Regions from separate parts of the Homo sapiens genome. Here region 2 is linked to region 1. The links come from fine-mapping of genetic effects on gene expression. Tissue or cell type: whole blood. Region 1 holds a variant in brackets; the other region holds the start of a gene. Each region is shown on its reference strand, or each on the opposite one.

Region 1 (9,169 bases):
GGGTCTACTCTGCTTGGTTTTGGTAGCAGCAGGTCAGTGTAGCCCATATTTCCATTGCAGCAACAGTAATTGCTCGCGTGCCATCATTTTTCCTAAGAGTTATAGAATACTTTAGAGAACATGACTGTGTTGAAAGTTATTTTATCAGATAATTACAGTCAGAACTAGCTCCCTTAACTCATTTCTCCTGTAGTCAATTTAAGAACTCTGTCACTGGCCGGGTGTGGTGGCTCATGCCTGTAATCCCAGCACTTTGGGAGGCTGAGGAGGATGGATCACGAGGTCAGGAGATCGAGACCATTCTGGCTAACACAGTGAAACCCCATCTCTACTAAAAATACAAAAAAAAAAAAAAATTAGCCAGGCATGGTGGCAGGCAACTGTAGTCCCAGCTACTTGGGAGGCAGAGGCAGGAGAATGGCATGAACCTGAGAGGCAGAGCTTGCAGTGAGCTGAGATGGCACCACTGCACTCCAGCCTGGGTGACAGAGCAAGACTCTGTCTCAAAAAAAAGAACTCTGTCACTTGATAAATATGTGTTTTCAGGAACTCTTAACATTCAGGGATGTGGCCATAGAATTCTCCCCAGAAGAGTGGAAATGTCTGGATCCTGCCCAGCAGAATGTATATAGAGATGTGATGTTGGAGAACTATAGAAACCTGGTCTCCCTGGGTGAGGATAACTTTCATGTGTAATTCCTAATATTCCCTCAGAGTTTTATTTTTTTTCCTTTGTAGAATGTTTCTTGGGAGCTTCTGCTTTGCGTGAATTAATTTCACCTTGTTTCTTCATGAAAAAATTGGGAGTCTGCTGGTGTAAAAAAAATCTTTAAGATGTTTCATCTTTACCTAAACCTTCTCTTTTATTGAGGGAATTTTTGTCCTTCACTCTAGATTAGTGGTAATTTTATAAATTCAGTGTTGTAAAATATCGTTTTCCACATCTTAAAATCCAATTTGTACCAATTTACCAATTTTTTTTATTCAGTAGTACTGGGTAGTGGAACTTAGAACCCACAGATTTGAAACACTTAAATATTCTAAAGAGCCTATCAGGAAACAATTTTTGGATTAATTTTTTAGAATCTTCCATAATTTCTCTTTTCTTCTTAGCATAGTACTAGGTTGGTAATTGGAGAATCTTCAGCAGTAGTCACGTTATTTTATCTTATTTTTTAAATAAAACAGGTGTTGCTCTCTTTAACTCAGACCTGATCACCTGTTTGGAGCAAAGAAAAGAGCCCTTTAATGGGAAGACACATGAGACAGTAGCCAAAGCCCCAGGTAGGTGAGAGTGAATGAAGGAGAGGACACAGGCAAGGGGACCAAAGGTGATGAAGGAAGTCAGGCCTTAAAATGTACTTTGGAAAGCACTTCTTCAATGCAAATAATTTCTGAAAAGGCTGCATTTTTTCTCATGTTCACAAATAGGGGCATCTTCAGCCCCATGCTGTTAAATCTTCTAAAAATTCTCTTTTTTCTTTTTTTTGAGATGGAGTCTTGCTCTGTCACCCAGACTGGAGTACAGTGGTGTGATCTCAGCTCACTGCAGCCTGTGCCTCCCAGGTTCCAGCAATTCTCCTGCCTCAGCCTCCTGGGTGACTGGGATTACAGGCATCTGCCAATACACCTAGCTAATTTTTGTATTTTTAGTAGAGACAGGGTTTTGCCATGTTGGCCAGGCTGGTCTCAAACTCCTGACTTTAGGTGATCCACCTGCCTCGGCCTCCCAAAATGCAGGGATTACAGGCATGAGCCACTACACCCAGCCCTCTTTTTTCTTTAGAGATCTCCCTTCAAGTTTACAGGGATAGCCAATGTCTACTTTATCACTTATAAGGGGCTGCATGATCTCACTGCTGTTCCATTGCTTTTGGAAATATAGGAATAATTGTGTTATTGAGGAGCTCTATGTTAACGTATTTTTTTCAAATATTGATTTTGTATCATGCCTAAATATGTAAGGCAAGTAGTGGACATATTGGAATTTGGTTCAGAAATCCCAGGAACACTAGGGACAGATGTTGCACCTTTTCTGCTTAGTGATTTTTAATCCTGTTGCAAATGTAATTCTACAAAAATTCTTTCTTAGCAATTTTATAAGAATGATAAGCATTTTCCTAAATATGAAAAATGTATTGTTGATTGTACTTCAAAATGTTATTGATTTAGTATAAACTGAGATTTGTAATTTAAACTCTAGATGTGTAAATTTTCAAATTATAATATAGTTTAAAGCATGGTTTTCCAACCTTTTGGCTTCCCTGGGCCACATTGGAAGCAGAATTATCTTGGGCCACACATAAAATACACTAACACTAATGATAACTGATGAACTTTAAAAAAAATTTCATAAATAATTTTTATGATAGCTACTGCAACAGATAAGTGAAATGTTCTTACATTCATAGCATTGGGCACCACTTGATTAAAGTATCTACTCACCTTCAAGATTTCTTAAATGCACTGTCATTAACTAGCTTAGAACACTGCTAAGTGTATATTATTATTTCTTAATAACTATTATCTTATACTTTTAGTAAGAAGCCTACTGGGGGCCAGGCGCAGTCGCTCACGCCTGTAATCCCAGCACTTTGGGAGGCTGAAGTGGGTGGATCACCTGAGGTCAGGAGTTCAAGACCAGCCTGGCCAACATGGCAAAACCCCATCTCTACTAAAATTGCAAAAATTAGCTGGGCGTGGTGGCAGGCACCTGTAATCCCAGCTACTCGGGAGGCTGAGGTGGGAGAATCGCTGAACCCGGGAGGCCGAGGTTGCAGTGAGCCGAGATGGCGCCATTGCACTCCAGCCTGGGCAACAGAGTGAGACTCCGTCTCAAAAAAAAAAAAAAAAAAAAAAAAAGAAGCCTACTGGGGTTTCATCATTGAGATCTATTGATATCTATATAAAAATGTGGGTCTCACACATACACCCACCCATATAAGTTATATATGTGTATTGTAAATTCTCACTTAACATTGTTGATAGTTTCATGGAAACTGTAAGTGAAGCAATATATTGTTTAAGAAAACTAATTTTGGCTCAGCACGGTGGCTCACACCTGTAATCCCAGAACTTTGGGAGACCGAGGTGGGTGGATCATGAGGTTAGGAGTTTGAGACCAGCGTGGCCAACATGGTGAAACCCCATCTGTACTAAAGATACAAAAAATTAGCCGGGTGTGGTGGCATGCACCTGTAATCCCAGCTACTCAGGAGGCTGAGGCAGGAGAATCGCTTAAACCCAGAGGCAGAATTACTATAGTTGAATTGATAGAAACAAGGTTATGTTTGAATGTCATATACCGACATTGTTTTATTTAAAGACGCAGTTTTCAAGAACCTATTTTGAACATTGAGTACTTACTGTACATCTGTGTTTGTGTGACATGGATTTTTCTGATAAATAAAAATGGTATAACTATATATTTAATGTATACAATGTAATGATTTGATACGCATGTACACTGTGAAACAAAATACAGTCAAGTTGATGAGCACATCTAGTACCTCAATTTTTTTTGGAGTAAGAACACTTAAGATCTACTGTAGTAGCAAATTGTAAGCATACATTACAGTATTACTAACTATAAACACAATGCTATTTGGCTAATCTAATGCTAATTTACATTAGATTTCTCAGACTTACTCAACTTATAACTAAAAATTTGTACTCTTTGAACATCTCCTCATATTTCTACCCTCAGGCACTAGCAACCACCATTTTATACTCTGCTTCTATGAGTGTACTTTTTTAGATTTCTCATCTAACTTAAAACAAGGAGTTTCTTTGTCTTTCTGTGTTTGGCTTATTTCATTTAGCATAACGTCCTCCAGGTCTATCCATGTTGTAAATGGCTACATTTCCTTCTCTTCTGGCGGAATAGTATTCTACTGTCTGTATATAGACACACACATACTATATTTTGGCTATTGTAAACAATACTACAGTGAACATAGGGCTGAAGATCTTTCTTCAAGGTACAAATTTTATTTCCTTTGGTAGGATGCCCAGAAGTGGTATTGCTGGGTTGTATGATATTTCCATTTTTATTTTTTACTGTTTTTTATGACGACTTTATTTATTTACATCTCACCAACAGCATACCGATTTCCCTTATATGTATGGTTTGTCTATTTTTGAATGGGTTATTATTATTGTTTTGCTTTGAATTGCAGAAGTGTCTTATACATTTTGGATATGAACTTCTTATTAGATATATGGCTTGCAAATAATTTCCTATGTTGTAGGGTTTAAAAAATTTTTTTTCTTTGCTGTGTGTAAGCTGTTCAATTTGATGCAGTCCCATTTGTTTGTATTTTTTGTTGCTGTGCTTTTGATGTCATATCAAAAAAGCTATTGCCAAGACCAATATTAACAAGGTTTTTTTTTTTATATATGTTTTCTTGAGGAGTTTTAAGGTTTTATGTCTTACATTTAAGTGTTTCATTTTGAGTTAATTTCGGGGTATGGTATAAGAAAATATTCTACTTTTATTCTTTCACTTGTGGATACCCAGTTTTTCTGGTACCATGTATCAACAAGACTGTATTTTCTGCATTGTATATTCTTGGTGGCCTTTTCAAAGATTAGTTTACCTTGTATTCTGGTTTTGTTTCTGGGCTCCCTATTCTGTTCCATTGGCTTTTGTAT[C/G]TGTTTTTATGCACATACAATACTCTTGATTACTATAACCTTTAAATAAAATTTGAAATTAAAGAGTATGATGCCCCAGCATTGTTCTTTCTCAAGATTGCTCAGGTTATTTAAAGTTCTTTAAGCTTACACTTAAATTTTACAATTGTGTTTTCTATTACTGTGAAAAATGCCCCTAAAACTTTGATAGGGATCACATCGAATCTAGAGATCATTTTGGATAATATGATACTTTGACAGTGTTAGTTATCCTAATGGAATATATTTCCTTTATTTGTGTCTACTTCAATTTGTCATCAATCTTATTGTATTTAATGTATAATTTTTTTACTTCATTGGTTAAATTTATTTTAATTAAATTTCTTATTTTTATACTATTGCAAATAGAAATTGTTTCTTTTTTTGGAAAGTTTGTTGCTACTGTATGGAAATGCAACAAATATTTGTATGTTGGGCCAGGTGCAGTGTCTCATTTCTGTAATCCCTACACTTTCAGAGTCCAAGGCAGGTGGATGACTTGAGGACAGGAGTTTGAGATGAGTCTGGGCAACACAGTGAGACCATGTCTCAAAAAAAAAAAAAAAAACCCACAAGTATTTGTATGTTGATTATGTATCCTGATACTTTAATGAATGCATTTATTAGTTCAAACAATTTTTCTTGTTTTACTCTAGGGTTTTATATATATATGCATGATCATATTATCTACAAACAGTAACATTTTTACTTCTTTTCCAAGCTGTAGAGCTTTGTTGCCCTTTTCCTCGCCCAATTGTTCTGAAAGAAACTTCCAGTAACATGTTAAGATAGAAGCTGTGGCCCTGCAGACAGGCCTGCATATCTTGGCCTCAGCTGTAGTCTCTGAAGCAGCCCTGTGTCTGTACATTTGAAGGATCTAACAATGATTACAGTTTCTATAAACTATTTTTGACAGGTAAAGATCTCCCATTTGTTTGGTCCACAGGCTGATGAGATTACCTCTGGGGTTGCAGAGAAGAAGGATTGTAGCTGGGTCACAAGGGTGCTGCTGGGTCTGCTGTGGGGTCTGCCTTTGATCGTTGTGTTACCAGATATTTGGACAGTCATGGATTCTTTCTGGGCCATGGAAACATTAAATATCCTTGAGGACATTATATGGCAGGCAGCAGGGTAGGGTTTGAAGTTTGTCTGCATATGATGGGCCAAATATCAGGTGTATGAATGGGTTTGGCTTCTACTGACTACCTGGGAACAGTTTTCACAAGTCTCTATGTGGGTCCCTGAGTGTGTACAACTGGCCACAGACAGTGACTGTGAGGGCTAGAACTGAGTCACAGGGCTGCTTCAGGGAGCACAGCTGAGGCCAAGATATACAAGCCTGCCTCCAGGGTTATGGCTGGGTGTGTCTCCCTGCAGGTCTCTTAATGAGAAGGACCACTTGTGGACTGTAGCTGAGAGGAGTTTGAGAAAGGTTGCAGAACTGCTTCATAATCTTCAGTAACACCAGGCTCAATGTGCCATTTCCTTGTCTGTAGCCATGTCTGTGGGCCCTTGAGTTAGCCACCTGGGTGAGGGCCTGCTTTTTCTAAATAACCCTCCTTGATCTCTGGCTCCACTGAGGTTTCACAACCCTAACCATAGGCAAGCATGTTTCTACTTCTGTTTCCTAGTTTACTACTCAAAATATTGTATAAAAGTGGAATCATACACTGTCACTTTGTCGGTGTCTTATTTCACTTTAAATAATGGCTTTAAGATTTATTCTTATTGTAGCATCTCACAAGATATTTTCATTGAGGGCTAAAGAATATTTCATTGTATGTATAAACCACATCTTTTTAAATCATTCATCCATTGAAGAATGTTTGAGTTTTTTCAGTTTTTGGCTTTTGTAAATGATATGGTTTGGATCTGCATTTTCATTCAAATCTCATGTCAAATTGCCATCCCTAATGTTGGAAGTGGGGCCTGGTGGGAGGTGGTTGGGTCATAGGGTTGGCTTCTCACGAATGGTTTAGCTTAGCCCCTTTGGTACTGTCTTTGACATAGTGAGTGAGTTCTGAGATCTCATTTTTCAAAAGTATGTGGCACCTCTTCTCTCAATCTCTCTAACTCCTGCTCCCACCATGTAAGATGACTCACCGTCCCTTTGCTTTCTGCTATGATTGGAAGCTTTTTGAGGTCTCCCAAGAAGCAGAAGCTGCTGCACTTTCTGTACAGGCTGCAGAACCATGACCCAGTGAAACTTCCTTTTTAAAATAAATTACCCAGGCTCAGGCATTTCTTTATAGCAATGCAGGAATAAACTAATACAGTGAATATTGCTGCAGTAAACATGGATATGCAAATATTTCTTTCAGGTATACTTTGCATATTTTGAATAGATGCTCAGAAGTGGGGCTGGGCACCATGGCTCACCCCTGTAATCCCAGCACTTTGGGAGGCCAAGGCAGGTGGATCACTTAATGTCAGGAGTTCAAGACCAGCCTGGCCAACATGGTGAAACCCTGTCTCTACTAAAAATACAAAAATTAGCCAGGTGTGGTGGTGTGCACCTGTAATCCCAGCTACTTGGGAGGCTGAGCCACAAGAATCACTTGAACCCAGGAGGCGAAGGTTGCAGTGAGCTGAGATCATGCCACTGCACTCCAGCCTGGGCAACAGTGCAAGTCTCTGTCTCAAAAAAAAAAAAAAAAGGAGTGGGATTACTGGGTCATATAATAATTTCATTTTTAATTTCTGGAGGAACCTTTATACATTTTTCAGATGGTTGTATCATGTTTATTTCCACCAACAGTACACAAGGGTTTCAATTCCTCCATGACAAATGACAACATTTGTCATTGTTTGCTTGATATTGGCCATACTAATTAATGCACAATAATACCTCATTGTGGTTTTGCTTTACATTTTGCTAAAGATTGGAAATATTTTTCAATAATTGTTTGCTGTGTGCATTTCCTCTTTGGAGAACCATTTTTATCTTGTTCATTTGTTAATGATGTTACTTACTATTTGTTGATTTTCTTGAAGTTGTTTATTCTGGATGTTAGCTTCTGTCAAATATATGCTTTTTAATTTGTTTTCTTAGGTGGGACTCTTACGAAATGTTTATTTTAATATGCAAAGATAAATTTAATGTAGTCCCATTTTTCTGAGTTTTTTAATTTGTTGCTCAGATATTTGATGTTGTATGCAAGGAAACATTGCTGAGACCAAGGTCATAATCTTACTGTATTTTCTTCTAGAGATTGTATAGGTATATTTCCGACATTCAAATATTTAACTCATTCAAGACAGCTTTTGTATATGGTTTGCGGGTAGGACCCAACCTCAGTTTTTCCCATGTAGTTACAGAGTTTTCCAACACCATTTATTGAAGAGACTGTCTTTTTCTTGTTGTGCGGTCACAGCAACCTTGTTGAAGATCATTTGAGCATATACACAAACATGGTTTGGCTTTAAGTTCTGGGTTCTGTTCCATCACTATTTGTCTTCTTTCAAGTACCACACTGTTTTTATTTATGTAGCTTTGTAATCTGTTCTAAACAAAGGAAGCGTTGTGCCTCTAACTTTGTTCTTGTTTTCTAAGAATGTTCAGGCTAACAGTGGTCCTTTGATGTTCCATGTAAATGTAAGAATTTTAAAAAAGATTTCTTTAAAAAGTATCATTTGGATTTTCATCAGGATTACATTGAATTTGAATATCACTGTGGGTAGTATTGTCATTTAAAAATATTAAATCTTCTGACAAAGAAGAGTATGTTCAAGAGTCTGTTAAGTTTCACATATTTTTGGATTTGGCAATTTTGCTTCTGCTTTTGATTTCTAGTTTGATTCCATGTGGTATGAAAGGATGCATTGTGTAATTCAATCTTTAATGCGTACCAGGCTTAATAATTTGATGACAAAATAATGTGTACAACAAACCTTCATGACACAAGTTTACCTATATAACAAACCTGCACATGTATCTAGGTCTTAAAGTTTTAAAACGTAAGAGTTATTTTGTGTTCTAACAGGTTGTCTGTGAAACAACAACTACTCATTTTCTTCTCCACTTAGCCCTGACACAGTTTAGTCTACTTTCTGTTTCTAGCAGTTTAACTACTTTAGGTACCTTACATAAGTGGAATTATATAGTATTTATCTTTTTGTGCCTAGCTTCTTGCACATAAATAAAGTCTCAAAAATGCATCCTTAGGCCGGGCACGGTGGCTCATGCCTGTAATCCCAGCACTTTAGGAGGCCTGGGTGGGCAGATCACCTGAGGTCAAGAGTTTGAGACCAGCCTGGCCAACGTGGTGAAACCCTGTCTCTACTTAAAATACAAAAATTAGCCGGGTGTGGTTGCAGGCACCTGTAATCCCAGCTACTTGGGAGGCTGAGGCAGGAGAATTACTTGAACCTGGGAGGCAGAGCTTGCAGTGAGCCGAGATCATGCCACTGCACTCCAGCCTGGGTAACAGAGCGAGACTCTGTCTCAAAAAAAAAAACAAAAAAGAAAACTTGGTTCTTCCCACATATTTGCTTTTGT
Region 2 (8,000 bases), not on the chromosome of region 1:
ATGATAATTCAAGAAAATTAGTGTAAAATTTTATTTTAAAATATGGTAATAAACACTAGAAGAATCAGCTACAGGTTTTAAAAGTGGTTGCATCTGAGAGAGAAACAGGGGTGTGGGGGAGAATAAGGGTGAAGAATAGTTATTTTTACTTTGAAAAATATTTTAAATTATAACACAAACAAGAGTTTCTAAATTTTGAAAGTGCATTGCATTAATAAAAAAATTAATTGGGATATTTGTTTTAACTTATCAGAACACATGCCATTTACATCTTTTAAATTTCCTTAATTTCTAATAAAAAAAAAATCACCTCTATGCAGTTAGTTCACTTCTCATATACACTCAACTTCAGTTTCTTCCCCACTCCAAGCATGCTGACATTCACTACCCAAAAACACTTCTCAAGGGAAATAAGTTCCTGTTTATCCATTTATAACTTTCCCCTCAAAGTTCTAGTTCAAGGCCATTTTTCTTTTTAACATGAGTTTGAGTTTACTCAAAATACTGTAGAGTCTGAGAACTAATCAGCCCACACAGGGACTTTTTAAATACAGCTTCCTAAGTAGTCTTTAATCTTCTACAAACCAATTCATTCTGCATATAGTTTACAAGTAAATCAATTTAAAATACTGTTTTCATCATCTCTCCTTTGCACAAGGACCTGATGATTCCCCTCTTCTAATGGGACAGCATTCAAACTCTTTTTTGTATCTGAAGGCTCCCAGTCTGCCCTTCTTATCTCATGTTCTTAGTCCTTAACTCCCCGAAGTGTACCTTCCACTTTTGTCAGGCAGATCTTTCTACCTCCTCTTCATAACATGCTGTTCTTACTTTTATCTCTTATAAATGCTCTGTCCCCAAAATTGAACTTCCAAGTTGAACGTCTTCACCTAACTTTTTATTTATACTAAGGTCAAGCTCAAGTTCCATGACTCTGGAAGCTGCCCCTTTGGCCTGCACTGACCCATCTCTTCTTGCTTGAATTCAGACAGCCACGAATGCTTGCTTCAAATGAATGTAGTTTCAAAACTGTGTTGGGTCACTATCATGGAGGTAGAGGTGTGGGAGTGGTCATTGTTTCATGCAATGCCAACCACAGAAAAGAAAAATAACTATTACTTGAACATTTTAAAAATTCAGATAATTAAACTTGAATTCCTTCCAAGTCAACCTTAAAAACTCACCATCAGTCAATTAAACAAAAAAATTAGAACACTGACTTTTTCCCCACTGCAAAATAGGCCCCTCTTCCACAAAACACAACACATGGCTAATACAATGAGACTACTGTGAGTGACTGCTGCCTCAAGATGAGGCACAGAACGAGACACATTCAAGAAGGGATACGAGGGATACGAGATTGCAAGGAAATAAAGGGTGTTTATATAGAAACAAACCTGGATCCACTCAAATTTATTTCTTTAAAGTCATTTTTAAACTTTGGTATTTTCACTATTTTTCCAAAAAATCACTTGCTACTCATACCTCACAAACAGTGGTTTTGCATCCCAACACTAAGGCTGACTTTAAAGACAACCAATCAGCTACTGCATATCCATTATTATATTAATGACTAAAGTTTTATCAAAATAATCATATTTGTACTTACTTGAAAGATACCTTTACTTTGGGTTTAAAATAGGGTGCATTCTGGTCTGCCAAAAAGACGATTAAGTCATTTCCTAAAGAAAACAAATATATGATATTAGAAAAATGTTTGTTGATAAGATATCTAATCAGTGGTTACAAGAAGGTTTCTGGGCACTGTTCTCAACAAGAAAACTTTTATTCTACTCCAGTTCATCTGCCCTCTCAAGCATAGTCCCACTAGTCCAATGGAGATGCCTAACATTATATCACAAGTTCAATGTTCAAAGTAGCAGAGAAATAGAAAGGATGAACATGGGAAAAAGCAGCTGATCAAGAGAAACTGAAGCCAGTGGATTCTGCGAGGAGTCAGATTGGTTGACTTAAAAGAACCATATAAAGATGCCTTATAACTATACTACATGTCAAGACTTGTCTTCCCCGAATCTAGCAATGCTGTCCCTTGTAAGGCTGTTTGGTTCATTACACAGATGCATCACACCAAGGATGCAGGGACTCCCATTGTAGATATCTGACAAAGACATAATTAAGCATGTGAGCACAAAATGCTGAATCCTCCAAGACCCTCCTCCTATGGGGCCATCCTCCAGAGGGTGACACATTCTTGGAGCTCAATTAGCACTCATTGAGACAGACTTTTGGAATTGTTTAATCAAACACAGGCCATCTTTAAAGTCAAGGCTACTCTCTGTATCCAGTTTGGACACAGCAGCAACAGGTTTGGCAGTACACTGCAAAATGAGGAGTCAAAAAGATTGGGAAAATATTCAGGGTTTGTAAGAGGTTCCTGCATCCCCGCAAGGGCTCCAAGAAGTCTGGTTCAGGATCCTGTCAGGCAAGCTCTGAGTAGCTCTTCCTTCCTTCCTTCACAGCATTGATCTTTAAGCAGCACCTGCTTCTGTAGGTACTCAAGAACCCTAAGACCCCCTAATGCCCACTGTCAGCATCAAGATTTACAAAAAAGTTAGTTTAACGATTGTCAAAGCAAAGAATTTCCAAGAACAAGTTAGCAAAGAAAGTAGACATTTGGAACACTAAGGTGATGACCAAGATGAGGAAGGAGTACACGAAAGAACAGGCAGCTCAAGAGAGAAATTTCTGTAGTTTGAGACTGCTTTCCCAAGGAGGCATTGGGTTTATCAGTGGTCCCTGCAAAATGCTTGTGTGAGCTGTTTAGTGTTTAGGCCCTTGGAAGGGTACATTCGCTTCATAGAAAGTTGTGGCCTTGACAAAGAAAGGGGTGGGCGAATTAGGTAGGTGGGGAGGCAAGAAGAAGCCCCCTATGAGAAGAGATTGTCAGGTTGCACCTTTTCATGTTCATCAACGGGGAAGGAAGACTGAAGCAAAATAGAAAGGAATGAGTGGGCCTTGGGAGCGAACGTTGAGGCAAGCTACAAAGATTCCTAGGAATCAGGAAGCACTTTGGAAAACAGGTGATTCCATGGGGAGGAGGGGGTAAGGTGACTGGGTGAGGGCCGCAGACTTCTTAGGAACAAAACTGAGGTGCTGTCAGGGCTTTTGAGGGTAGGTCAAACTGTAGGGTAGCTGGGTCAGAACCTGGGGTTGGAAAGGGTGGTGCAAAAGGACAAGCTGTTAAGAATGCTAAAGGGAAGGCCACAGGGCTGGGAGAGAAGGACCAGGAAATGCAGAAGGACCGGCCATTGGGCAATGGGTTTGGGGAACACCGGGAGAGGCACACGGACAGCGAACAGAGGGAGGGCCCGGCAAGCACTGACTTTCCCGCAGCACGAAGAGATCCGTCTGCTTGTCGGAGTTGAGGTCCCCGAAAGCCGCAAGGGTGCCCCAGGCCTCGGCCCCAAAGAGCTCGGCCGTGACGTTGTGCAGCGCCCGCGCTGGGACCGGCCCGACTCCCAGTAGTGCAAGCCCTGCGAGGAGCGGCGAGAAGAGGGCCCAGGAGCTCGGGAGCCGGCCCGCCGCCGCCATGGCAGCCCCTCAGCCCCCGCCCGCCGGCCCAACGCCGCGCTTGACGACAGCCGCAAAGCACCGCGTTACCGGCCGAGAGAGTGGCGCGCAGCCCCGGGACGCGTAAGAGCCGCTGCCGGCTCCTTTTTCTCTCTCCCACTAGGGCTGCCCTTCCGACGCTAAAAAAGCAGTGGAGCTAGGGTGAAAGCCGCCCTCACGCTCACTTCCGGCAGGCGCGCCTCCCGACAGTGTCGTGCGGGGGGCGTGGCCCGGCATTGCTGACAGGCGGCCCCGGGGGCGGTGGCCAAGGCGGCGACCGGAGCGCGATGGCGGGGGCGGCGGGACTCACGGCAGAAGTGAGCTGGAAGGTCTTGGAGCGAAGAGCTCGGACCAAGCGCTCAGGTTTGGCTGGCTGGGGCGCCGCCCCCCACCCGAGTACCTTGGGTGGTGCTTCGCCTCAAGCGCCTTGGCGGGAGGCAGGTGGGGGCCCTGGGAATGAACCTGTGCCCCGAGTTCCTCCTTAGAAAGCAGGTGGCGGCCCTGGCCTTGTTTCTAATATCTTCCTCCACCTCTAAAAATTAGGTGGCAGAGCCAGCTCCACTCTGCGTGTGCCCCCGACTCTATTCCGCTTGTGAGCCCCACTCGGAAAGTAGGCAGCGGTCCGGACTTCCCTTAGAGTCTTCTAACTTAAAAATCGGGCGGCGGCACATTCCTGGGAAAGGGAATGTGTCTTCCCTGTGAATGTGTCTTTCCTGTGAATGTTCTCTGCAAAAGTCAGATAGCTTAATCAGACCAAGTCAGATGTAACTACGATCTGGCTGCAGAAAGCCGGCGTCTGGGCTCCTTGCTTTATGTCTTATATCCCTTTTACATTCCCCACAGGTTCTAAGCAGTAGACCTGTCATCTATCTAGCAGAAACTGAAGGAGACTGGGCCTCAGATATTGAAGAGTATAGTTAGGGCCCAGAAAGAAAAGGGCTTCTTAAGTGGCCCCAGGTTGTGTGGTTTCCAAACCCGAAAGCATAGAGGTCAGAAGGTGCCTTGCAGGCAGTTTTAACAGTTCCAAGTGTCCCGAACTGACTTGTTCAAATTGCAACGTCATGACTTGTGGCGTTATTAAAACTTCCTGTATTCCTGGTTGGCTGGATATAATCTTGAACAAAAGGCATGCACTTAAACAGGAAAGGTGAAAGGCGGAATGCAGGTTTTCAGCTAAGGAGCTTCCCTTTTAAAGAATTGATGAAGTGTCATTATTGGGGGTGGGTGTGAAAGGTGTTAGCTAGGAAAATTAACTTTGCACTTGCATTGATATTAAGAAATTATTTTCGGACGGGCGCGGTGGCTCACGCCTGTAATCCCAGCACTTTGGGAGGCCGAGGCGGGCGGATCACCTGAGGTCAGGAGTTCGAGACCAGCCTGGCCAACCTGGTAAAACCCCATCTCTACTAAAAATACAAAAATTACCTGGGCGTGGTGGCGGGCGCCTGTAACCCCAGCTACTCGGGAGTCTGAGGCAGAAGAATTGCTTGAACCTGGGAGGCGGAGGCTGCAGTGAGTGGAGGTCGCACCACTGCACTCCAGCGTGGGCGACAGAGTGAGACTCCGTCTCAAAAAAAAAAAAAATTATTTTCTCACCTAATATGTTCTCCTTACGTTTTGGGCTTTTCCTATTTATGAAGTTCTTAGTTGTCTGTTGTGCACACTGACTTTTTTTTTTTTTTTTTTGGAGAAAGTAAATCTAATTTCTGAAAATCTAATTTCAGAAATCATACACCGAACACTCTGTTTTTTTATACCTTACAAAAAGTTCAGCTTTATATACTTAGGGTTATAGTAAAATTACCATCTATGAAGTATGAGATAATTTTTTCAAAAAGTAGTCCTTAGTACTACTAAGAATCAATAAAGTGACTTGGAATAGTCACATGTATTTGTTTCACACTTTTTCTTAAATTGTTTTTGTGTGATATAGAAATACTGAGTTGGCTACTAACGATGTGGCTATCTGGATATAAAAAGTGTTATTGGATTGGTTATGTCTGAACAAAGAGAATAACTGGAGTTTTCTTACAGGGACCTGAGTACTGCCCCCAACATATATTTTTGCAACATTTCTCTTTAACTTTCATAAGCTCATAGAGTTGATTTTCTTCGTCAGTCTTTGTTTCCTCTGAAATGCATGTCATAACAGTAAGCTTTGAAAACCTTAATTCTCTTTTCTTAGCTGAGAAAAAAAATTCTAGTGTTAACTGTTGTTGAGTGCAGTTATTTAAATCCACTTTTATGTGCAAAGTGCATAGTATCAATGTTGAATGTTCCTGTATGTTTACATCATAGTAGTAAAGAGATACCACTTGAAGTTATTCCTCCAAATTAATAGTTAAATTTGAGGTTTCAGATTCTTGTAAGTATATGAAGTACAGAGGATAAAGTTAATAACTCGAGTTAATAACTTCCTGTATCATTAAAAGCAATCAACTTGATTCTGTTTGTTACTTTTAGAAGAATATATAAATGGAGCTTTGTTAAACACTTGACTAACCTGACTCCAGTATAGAGTCCTCCCCACAGAGTTCTGAGCATTGTTACATAGTAGCATAATTACTTCACTGCACAACAGAGGATACTACTTTTATGTAATGTCTAATAAGTGGATATTATATAGTTTCTATCTCATCCATATGAGCAAGTGTAATTTATCAAAGCAAAGAAAATCACATTTTCAAGTCATAAAAGAGAAAATAAAATTATAATGATCCTCAGTTACTGCCTTTGTTGCATACTGCATCATGTTAATAACTGCTCACACTGCTTTCAATTAATTTAACACTGATTGCTTCTAACCTTTACTAAACAGTTTTAAAATTGCTATAGCTTAGCCTGCGACGCTTATGATTAGAGCCAACAATTTGAAATGGCCTGCTCACCTGATGCAGTCGTCTCTCCGTCTTCCGCTTTCTTAAGGTCTGGTAAGTGTTGTAGACCCCAAAAGGGTCACTTGGTAATTTTAAATACCTTTGTTTCTGAAGGTTGATTTCACTATAAGATATCATTATGTCTTTATTTCTTCTTTGGTGGGCCCAGGCCTGAGTACCCGGCTGGTGTTTTGTTTAACTTTGCATTGTGTTTTGAATGTGGCCTATTGTGTTCTTCTCATGTGGGATGTGAAAAGAACAGAGAGTGGAGTGCCTGCCCCGATATTTGCAAGCAGAGGCAGTTCCTTAGTGTCTGGGAGCTCCCATTGTCAAATGTGCACATAGCATATTTCTTAAATGATTTTTGTCTTCTTGCCACAATGGAAGTAACTTCTACAAATTAGGAAATTTTGGTCAACATCCCACTTATCTGTTCTTCATCAGCTTACTGTGAAGCAGGTTATTAATATACACGTTTTCACAGACAGGAAGCGACTTGCCCCAGGGAATATTTTGAGGCCATGTGCTTTGGCCTTTATCCTGTGGCATCCTGGTGTAAGGGCTGGAACAGATGTTGGCACAATGGCTCTTAGACCGTTGTGTTGATGCACCCCTTTGAGAGCTGGATGAAAGCTATGGAATTGCTCTTCAGACGTGTGCACAGGATTTTGGAAACAATTTCTGGGTGATTCATGGACCCAGACATGATTACCTATGCATTCCCATTAGCAACCAGGCCTTTGGATGTATTCAGTGTCACTTTACAGAACAAGCCACACATTTAGTTAGGTGGCCACATAGCTGAAATGAAAACTGAAGCATTTACAGCCCTTTTCTGTAGTTGTGGCCTAACTTGGGCCATTTAAAACCTATTATGTACTAGAAAACTCGGAGAAGCCTGCTGGTAAGAGATTACCTTTTCTATAATGCCTCTTAAGCAGAATATTTCAAGCCTCAGGACTCATGAACAGGCAAATGTGAGATGAGCACCCCCAAACACAGTGAAAACTCCTTGGCTTCACCATAGCCTTTCAGAAGTGTTTCTCCCTCTTCATTCATTTTCGTTTATATTTCAAGTCCTGTTCTGGCAAGATAGAGGAGGAAAATCTTAAAGAAAATAAATAAGAAATAACTTAAGGAAGAATCAAACAGGAGAAAACAAAAACTCTTTAAGGAACTAAAATGATTTCTATTTCTAGGTGTCATCTGCTAAATGACAAAATATTACATGTAACAATGCCAATTGATTTCTGATTTTATCTTTGAACTAAAAGAACAGGAGGACATATATCTCTAGACTCTGTTTTCTTTCCTTATAAGCACCAAGCTCTGTTTTCCATCTTGGCTTTTCTACTAAGAAGGAAAGTGGTTTTAAGCACTAGCACAGTCATTCAGTAGTAATGGGGAAATAGAATGTTTAAAGATAGCTTTTATGCATCAACAGTCCTGAAAATTTCTAAACCCAAGAACTGTGCTTTAACATTACATAGAGTGTTTGAAGGTATATACAAGACGCTTTTCCTGTACTGTATCATCAAATTGAAATAGAATGCA

Evidence for each region. PIP is the estimated chance that this variant, and not a neighbour inherited with it, causes the effect. A credible set is the group of variants that fine-mapping cannot tell apart.
Region 2: ITFG1 starts here. The variant in region 1 is the best candidate, but not a certain one, in a credible set for the expression of ITFG1 in whole blood (TOPMed, PIP 0.56).

The regions. Positions count from the first base shown.
Region 1 is chr4:218,106-227,274 of GRCh38, forward strand. It overlaps LOC124900642 (zinc finger protein 141-like), which reads left to right and starts at 451. Exons shown (of 2, transcript XM_047416470.1): 1 at 451-673; 2 at 1,189-1,538. The coding sequence starts at 535. The coding sequence ends at 1,292. It also overlaps the pseudogene ZNF876P. The variant C/G (reference allele first, on the strand shown) is at 4,654.
Region 2 is chr16:47,457,494-47,465,493 of GRCh38, forward strand. It overlaps ITFG1 (integrin alpha FG-GAP repeat containing 1), which reads right to left and starts at 3,570. Exons shown (of 18, transcript NM_030790.5): 1 at 3,345-3,570; 2 at 1,610-1,682. The coding sequence starts at 3,552. PHKB (phosphorylase kinase regulatory subunit beta) reads left to right here and starts at 3,838. Exons shown (of 31, transcript NM_000293.3): 1 at 3,838-3,933. The coding sequence starts at 3,858. RefSeq lists a silencer at 3,479-3,948.